2 linked regions of the Homo sapiens genome follow. The protein of the gene in region 1 interacts with the protein of each later gene in a pairwise test. Each region holds a gene or a part of one and is shown on either strand. Other genes may lie near its edges.

Region 1 (4,609 bases):
AGTTATCTTTCCTTACGCCTTTAGTTTTTGTTTAAAGGTTCATTACGAACTTTAGCAGTGAAAAAAAGTGTGGCAACTGGGTCATTCTGACCTAGAAGCAACCAAAATACTTCTGATTGCCGCAGCAGACAATGATGAATCATACCTAAACAAGTTTGCTGCCTTTTCATTTCTGTGGGTCGTAATCAGACTCATTGTTTTGTAGCCAGTGAGACATTTGCAGCAGCATGTTTGGGTCTGTGGGAGGAGGGAGGCTTGCAGATCTTCCCAGCGATGTGTGTGCTTGTCCCCACTAGCGCAGTGGAAACAGTGTTCTTGTTATCCAGGTTTAAGCCCTGTTAGGGATATGGCTTGTCCATTGTCATCGTGATGATACTGCTTAAAGATATCCTTTGTTGAGCACCTGCCATATGGCAGACGGTGTAAAAGGTGCTTTACGGTCCTGGTGTCATGGAAAGCCTTCCAACAACCTTATGATAGAGGTATTATTATCTTCATTTTGCCAAGAAAACTGAGGCTCTGGGAAGTTAAGTCAGTCACATAGCCAGTAGATACCAGGCACCCATAAATGTTTGTTGAGTGAATGAATAAATGAAGGAATGAATGGCAACTCCAAACTAATGGGAGAGAAATGCAAGAAGAGAGAGACTGATCAACATGAGACAAAAAACTTGGTGCTACAAGTTAAGAGGTTTTGCACATCCCAATTATTCATTTTTGCAATTTTTAAGCTCCACTTTCAAATAGAGACGGGGATTGGGATGGGATTTCAATGCAGGCGAATAACACAAGACAGATGGAGGAATATGTTTATGATCAGCAAAGAGATCACTCATCTTGAAAAAAACAGATAAATGGGAAAACACTGAAGTGCCAGCCACAGTACTAAATACTCTACTACATTATCTCATTTAATCCTCACAAAGTCAGCTTTGAAGTCAGCACTGTTATCTCTGTTTATGGCTGAGGAAACTGGAGCTCAGGGAGTGAGGGAGGCTGTCCAAGGTCACACAGCTCCGGTGGGTGAGGGGGCAGGGACTGGACCCAGGCACACCCAGCTCCACAGCGTCCCTGAGACTCTGTAAACAGAAGCCGGGAACAACAATTTCATTATTTATGCTTGAATTTAATTTTGTGTTTGATGGAGGAAAAAATGGATGATACACAGATTGCTACCAACAAAACCCAACAATTGGTTCTTTGAGATTCTAGCTTAGTGCAGGGAGAAAGGCAAGCCGGTGATGAACGTTTTGGGGTAGCCAGAAACAATGAACTAGGGGTGACTGGTGTGAAATTCAGTTGTGTGGACCATATTTTCTAAACTAGAATCTGCACACCATGCTCTCCCGCCATGTTCTCCCCTAGGAGAAAATTGTAGCTTGCAGGCAGAAATGTAAACACATAATCAATTCTACTATAACTTGATATATGTGTTCCTAAAAATTATTGCACCATGCAAGATTGGGCAATAAAAACCGCAGGGTTTATGACGAATACAGGCTTAGGGCAACAGCTCTCAAAAACTTCATCAATGACACATTTTTTAAAAAGATAAAAACCTAATAAAAAGGGCAGCACCGTTTTACACATGCTAAATGGTTAAGAGATACATAAATACTGCAGTAGAGATGGGATTTTACCTCAAAGTGCAAAGGTAAATGAAATAAAGTTTTTTCAATGGAAGGCTTGCAGCTCTTGAGGACCTGCCAAATGGAAGAAGGACAGAGACCTGGAGCCCTATGGAAAGTTCTGACACCATGTGTGGAAGGACATGGCTTTTAACACGTGTGGTGACTGGAGGTAGGTGGTAGGTGCTTGAGGCTGGTGTGTGTGCGCCTTTTGTATATTCTCAAGCAGCTGGGGTCAGTTGGGCACCATTTTTCTGAACTTACTTTTGTGTTTCTTGCAGAGGAAATCACCAGGCACACACAAAACCCACAAGGTATTCAAATTGTTCTGTAATATGTCAATCTGTCCGTACAAATTTGCAGTTTCAAAACAAGCGTTATAGCTGAACTGACTGTATGTGGGAACATCACTGCAACTCTTGCTGACCCTGTGTGCTGAAGTGGGGAGCGTGCGGCTTTCATACCCCCAGCCTTTCTGCACAGCTCTTCAGTTTACCTGGGGGCCCCTCAGCAGTAAAGCCAGATCAACAGGCTCACCCGTGAGAGCTCCTCTTGTGTGATTGTTGAGTGGCTCAGTGATTGGGTTGGTTGGGAAACAGAGTGTGGCCCTCAGTCTTCCTGAGGATGGTAATTAGAGGGGGATGTGTGCTTCTTCTTCACATATACCTGGTTGTTCTCTGATTGCTTTGGTGTCTTTTCTTCTGTTTCTTCTCCTGGATGTTGTTTTCATGTTTCCTTCCTTAAGTGCTACATGACCCTTGGATTTTCATGTGTGTTTAAGAGTGAGGCAGAGAAGGTTGACTGGGAGTGTTGTGTCCACAGGGGGCGCTGGTGTCTGGCAGGTGTCACTTTTGGGGTGCTCAGGACAGAATCAGCTGGCATTCTGGAGGCCTCTGAATGCCAGACTGTGCGTTAGCGGCTCTAGTTCTTGTTGGTTGATTCAATTTGTATCAGAAGAGCTTTCGGTATTTTTTGCCTGGGGTGAACGCCTGGCTCCTGGGAGATCTGCATGTGGCCCTGGGGTGGGAGGTAGAGGAGCTACCTGCTCTGTAGACAGGATTTCACAGAAGACCCCTGGTCCCAGCGCTGCTGTGCACTCCTCCCAACACTTGTCTGGCGTATCTGAGTCTCTGCATTTCCTCAGGGCCAGTTGGTCCCCCCAGGTATGCACCCTTCTCCTGTGTCAGCTCCACATTCCCTCTCTAGTCTGGCTTCTGGAAGTTTATGAAACCTGAACCTCTAGTTAGCTAATGGCATCCCTTCCATCTTTTCATCACTGTGGCTTAAAATACCTCACCCCACTTATTTATTTATTTATTTATTTATTTTTAATTCAGTATCTTTTGAAGGTCATCTCAGGAAGGGCCAGGTACCATGTTGAATTAGAAGTTAATTCTCATACCATAATCTAAATGTCTGTTTCCATTAAACAGCATTTTTACAAGGAAAGGACTTTACTCTTCGAGTTTCCAGTGCCTGGCACACAGGATGACACTTAAAAAATAATAATAAATAAATAATAGAGAAATAAGGTGTGTGTTGATTGAAATACATTGATTGAGTTCTTTGGTTACTTCTAGGTCTGAGAGTCTAGGATTCGGTGATTCAAGGGGAGAGGCTGAGGAAAGTCTTTAACTAGATGGGAAGGCTTGGGTCCTTGGGTTTTCACGAGTATAGAAAAAGGTTGCATTAGCCCCACTTACATGATTTGTTTTATCTTCCCCACTTCCTGACCGTGCCCACTAAATCTCTGAAATCTCTGGGCTGTCTACATTTTGCCTGGATATGGATGTCGGAATTGTTCATCTTCTTTCTTCTTGCTGCCCTGAACTCTTTTTTTTTTCCCTGTAAAATGCAAACACTACCTTGTAAATAAACTCTTATCAGATACCTTCTATTTCCTAGGCACTGTGATTGGCCAAGGGCGTACATCTGCATGTTCTCTGCTCTCCTGGGGATCCCAGGCAGCAGGGGAGAGAGGGAAGCACACAGATTAACCATGGTCCTGGGAGACCACCGCAAGCCTGGAGCATACACAGGAGTGGTGGGGACACAAAGAGAATGCCCAGCTCAGTTTCGGGAGGTCAGAACCACCACACAATTGAAGAGATGCTTGAACTGGGTCTTGAGGGATGAGGCAGCGGGAACACAGCATGTGCAGAGTCGGAGGTGTGACAGGATACGGAGGCACTGCTTGTGCCCCAGGCAGTCAGCAACCAGGCAGTGCCAGCAGCACCAACCCCGCATGATTTGTCCCAGTAAAGCTTTGTCTTCTCTAGTGATCTGGAAACCTCTCAGGGAAACATTTTGTAAAAGCCAAGCCATATTTATTTATTAATGGTGGTTATATAGTTTCTAGAGCATTTTGTTGGATAGGTAGAGACTTTTCTGCTTTTTGAAAGTTATCACTCCTAGCCATTGTGGCCAAAAAGAGAAAAATGCCAAAAAGTGCCAAACTGTGGCTATGATTGTCATGTTTAATGTGGAGAGGATTTGGCCAGGGGTAGAAGAGCATTATGTATAGAATAGAACAAAGAGATTTATGGCAAGAAGAGATACTGGCATTAAGCAAAGAATTGCAGATTTAAACTGAGAAGAGAGCCGCACAGCAGATGGAGTTAACACTGGAGGTGAGCTCTCTCCTCTTTAGGTACCTCATTGCTATTTTCACATCAAAAGCCTATTTTTGACAGTAATTAGAAAGCATAGTGGGTTCAAAGTCATTGCAATTCACACCTAATGAAGGCAAACTTTGCTAATTTTCTCCTCATAATAGTAAGTTACATCAATTTTAAAAGTTAGCAATTTACAGCACAGTTGAAAGAAGCATGTTTTAAAAAACCTTGAATTCTTAGAGGCAAGTACCATAGATATTTTCTTTTTTTTTATTTTTCTTTGAGATGGAGTTTCACTCTTGTCGCCCAGGCTGGAGTGCAGTGTTGGAATTGTGGCTCATTGCAACCTCCTCCTCCTGGGTTCAA
Region 2 (3,819 bases), on another chromosome or scaffold:
ACAATCCACCCATTGAAAGTGGACAATTCAGTGTTTTTTAGTATACTCACAGATTTGTGCAACCATCACCATAGTCAATTTTAGGACATTTTCATCACCTCAAAATGAAACCTTGTTATCCTTTTCCTAACACTCTCCTATCTCCTCACCCCACCCCACCCTTCAGCCCTAAGAAACCACTAATCTACTTTCTGTCTCTGTTGATTTCCCTATTGTGGACCTGGCATATTCATGGATTCAAATAATATGTGGCCTTTTGTTACTGGCTTCTTTCAGTCAATTAGCATAATATTTTCAAGATTCACCTGTGTTGTAGCATGGAGAGTACTTTATTTTTTTTATAGCCTAATAATTCATTATGTGGGTATACCACATTTTATTTATTCGTTTGTCAGTTGATAAACACTTGTTTGCACATTTTTGGCTATTATGAATAATGCTACCATAAACATTCATGTACAAGTTTTTGTATGGACATTTGTTTTTTCCTGGGACATATTATTTCCCTGGGAAATAATAGGAGGGAAATTGCCAGATCATTTGATAACTCTACATTTAATCATTTCAGGAAGTATCAGACTACATTCAGATGAGATCGGGTGCGTTCAGGGTGGTATGGCCATAGAAAGGTCAGGCTGTATTCAAAAGTGGCTCATACCAATCTATATTCTACAGGCGGTGTACGAGGGTTCCAATTTCTCCACATTCTTACCAACATTTGTTATTATCTGACTTCTTTATCCTAGCCATTGTAGTGGGTATGAAGTGGTATCTCATTAACTTAACTTGCATTTTCTTAATTGGTAATGATGTTGGTCATCTTTTCATGTGCTTACTGGCCATTTGTATATCTTCATGAAAGAAATGTCTGTTTATACTCTGCTCATTTTTAAATTGGATTATTAGTCTTTTTATTATTGTGAGAATTCTTCATCAATTCTGGACACAAGTCTCTTATGTATTATTTGCGAATATCTTCTCCCATTCTGTGCATTGTCTTTTCACTTTCTTGATGATGTCCTTTGACCCAAAAAACTTTTATGACGTCCAGTGTGTCTATTTTTTTGTTTGTTCGTTCCTTGGTATCTATCTCCTCTGCCAAATTCAAGGTCAGGAAGATTTACCCCTGTGTTTTCTTCTAAGAGATTTATAGTTTTAGCTCTTACATTTAGATTATTGATTGATTTTGAGTTAATTTTTGTATGTGGTGTGAGGTAAGGGTCCAGCTTCATTCTTTAGCATGTGGACATGCAATAGTCCCCACACTATTTTTTAAAGAGAATATTCTTGCCTCCAGTTAATGGAGTTAGCATCCAATTAAAAAATCATTTAGACTGTACATGTATGGATTTATTTCTAGACTCTCAACTGTCTTCCATTGATCTATACATCTATCCTTGTGCCACCACACTGTCTTGATTACTGTTGTTTTGTAGTAAGTTTTGAAATCAGGAAGCGTGAGTCCTCTTTGTATTTTTCAATATGGTTTTGTCTATTCTGGACCTCTTGCAATTCTATATTAATTTTGGAATCAGTTTTTCTACAAAGAAACCAGCTGGGATTCTGATGGGAATTGCATTGAATCTGTAGATCAGTTTGGGACATATTATTATCTTCACTAGGTTAAGTCTTCTAATACATGAATATGGGATATTTTTCCAATTATTTAGATCTCATTTAATTTCTTTCAACAATGTTTTATAGTTTTCAGAGTATAAGTTTTCCACTTCTCTTGTTAAATTTATTACTATTTTATTCTTTTTGATGTTTTGTAAATGAAATTGTTAATTTCATTTTTGGATTGTTGATTGCCAGTGTATAGAAATACAATTGATTTTAATATATTTATCTTGTATCCTGCACCCTTGCTAAACTCATTTTAGTTCTAATAGTTTTTTAGTGGATTCCTTAGGATGTTCTTATAGATCATGTCTTTTGCAAATAGAGATAGTGTTACTTATTTTCCAATCTGGATGCCTTTTATTTCTTTTTCTTGTCTAATATCTCTGGCTAAAACCTGTAGTATAATACAGTGTTGAATTTAGAAGTAATGAAAATGGATGGACAGCCTTGCTTTGTTCCTGATCTAGGGGGAAAGCATTCAGTCTTTCTCCATGATATATGATGTTACCTGTATGATGTATATAGCGTGACATTATTAGATGTTGATTTGTTGGCCAGCCGAGGTGGCTTACGCCTATAATCCCAGCACTCTGGGAGGCCAAGGCAGGTGGATCACCTGAGGTCAGGAGTTTGAGACCAGCCTGGCCAACATGGTGAAACCTCGTCTCTACTAAAAATACAAAAGTTAGCTAGGTGTGGCGGCGGGCGCCTGTAATCCCAGCTACTTGGGTAGGAGAATGGCTTGAACCCAGAAGACAGAGGTTGCAGTGAACCGAGATGGAGCCATTGAGCCTGGGAGACAACAGCGAAACAATCTAAAAAAAACAAAGATGTCGATTTGTCATAGATGCTCTTTATCAAGTTGAGGAAGTTCCCTTCTGTTTCCTAGTTTGTTGAGCATTTTTATATGAAAGGGTAATGAATTCTATCAAGTGCTTCTTCTATTTCTATTGAGATTATCATGTAATTTTTTTATTCTGTTGATATGATGTATTTTATTAATTGATTTTTAGATATTAATCTAACCTTCTGAGATAAATCTCACTTGGTTATGGCATATAATTATTTTTATATGTTGCTGAGGGGTTTTTTTCAGCCATATTCCTAAGATATACTGGTCTGTAGGTTTTCTTTGCTTTGTTTTTGTTTTTTTAATGTCTGTCTCATTTTGGTATCAGGGTAATGGTGACATCACAAAATGAGTGAGAAATGTTCCCTCTTTTCTATGTGGAATGGTTTTTGAATAATTGGTATTAATTCTTCATTGAATGTGTGGTAGAATTTATTGGTGAAGCCATCTGGACCTTGGTTTTTCTTGTGAATATTTTTTGGTTACTAATTCAATATCTTTACTTGATATAGGCTTATTCAGATTATCTCTTTCTTCTTGATTCGGTTTTCTTCTTGAGTAGTTTATGTCTTTCTATAAATGTGCCTAATTTGTTGGTATATAATTGTTCATAGTATTCCTTTATAATCTTTTTTTTATTTCTGTAAGGTCAGTAGTAATGGCTTCTCTTTATTTCTGATTCTAGTAATTTGAGTCTTTTTTTTTTAAGTTTCTTTCTTTTTTTAAATTTTTAGTGGAGAAAGAACTTTATTTTTTTGTTTGGTTTTTGGGTTTTTTTAGAGACAGGATCTCACTCTGTCACCAGGCTAGAGTGCAGTGATGCAATCACGGCTCACTGCAGCCTCAACCTCCCTGGGCTCAGGTGATCCTCCCACCTCAGCCTCCCAAGTAGCTGGGACTACAGGCGTGCGCCACCACATCCGGCTAATTTTTCTACTTTTTGTAGAGACAGAGTTTTGCCATGTTGCCCAGGCTGGTCTGGAGCTCCTGGGCTCAAGGAATCTACCAGCTTTGGCCTCAAAATGCTGGGATTATAGGCTTGAGCCACTGCACCTGGCCAAGAACTTTTCTTTTTTATAATTTCATCTTTTATTTTAGATGTGGGGGTACATATGCAGATTTGTTACATGGGTGCATTGCATGATACTGAGGTTTAGGGTATGACAGGTCCCGTCAGCCAGGCAGTAAGGATAGTACTCAATAGGTGGTTTTTCAGCCCTTGTTTAATGGCTGAAAAATCCAACATCCGATTACTCTCAGACATTTTTTCTCCTTGTGTCCAAATGTATAGGTTATACTTTTCTGTTTATTGGCATGCCTTGTAATTTTTCATTGGAAAGTAAATT

Evidence for each region.
Region 2: the proteins of GREB1 (region 1) and HMMR interact in a two-hybrid assay, tested with the Homo sapiens proteins (one large-scale study listed by BioGRID and IntAct).

The regions. Positions count from the first base shown.
Region 1 is NC_000002.12:11,532,455-11,537,063, forward strand, and holds the start of GREB1 (protein GREB1), read left to right. Parts: upstream 1-1,590; 5' UTR 1,591-1,800; intron 1,801-4,609. UniProt on the Homo sapiens protein: May play a role in estrogen-stimulated cell proliferation. Acts as a regulator of hormone-dependent cancer growth in breast and prostate cancers.
Region 2 is NC_000005.10:163,484,622-163,488,440, forward strand, and holds part of HMMR (hyaluronan mediated motility receptor), read left to right. Parts: intron 1-3,819. UniProt on the Homo sapiens protein: Receptor for hyaluronic acid (HA). Involved in cell motility. When hyaluronan binds to HMMR, the phosphorylation of a number of proteins, including PTK2/FAK1 occurs.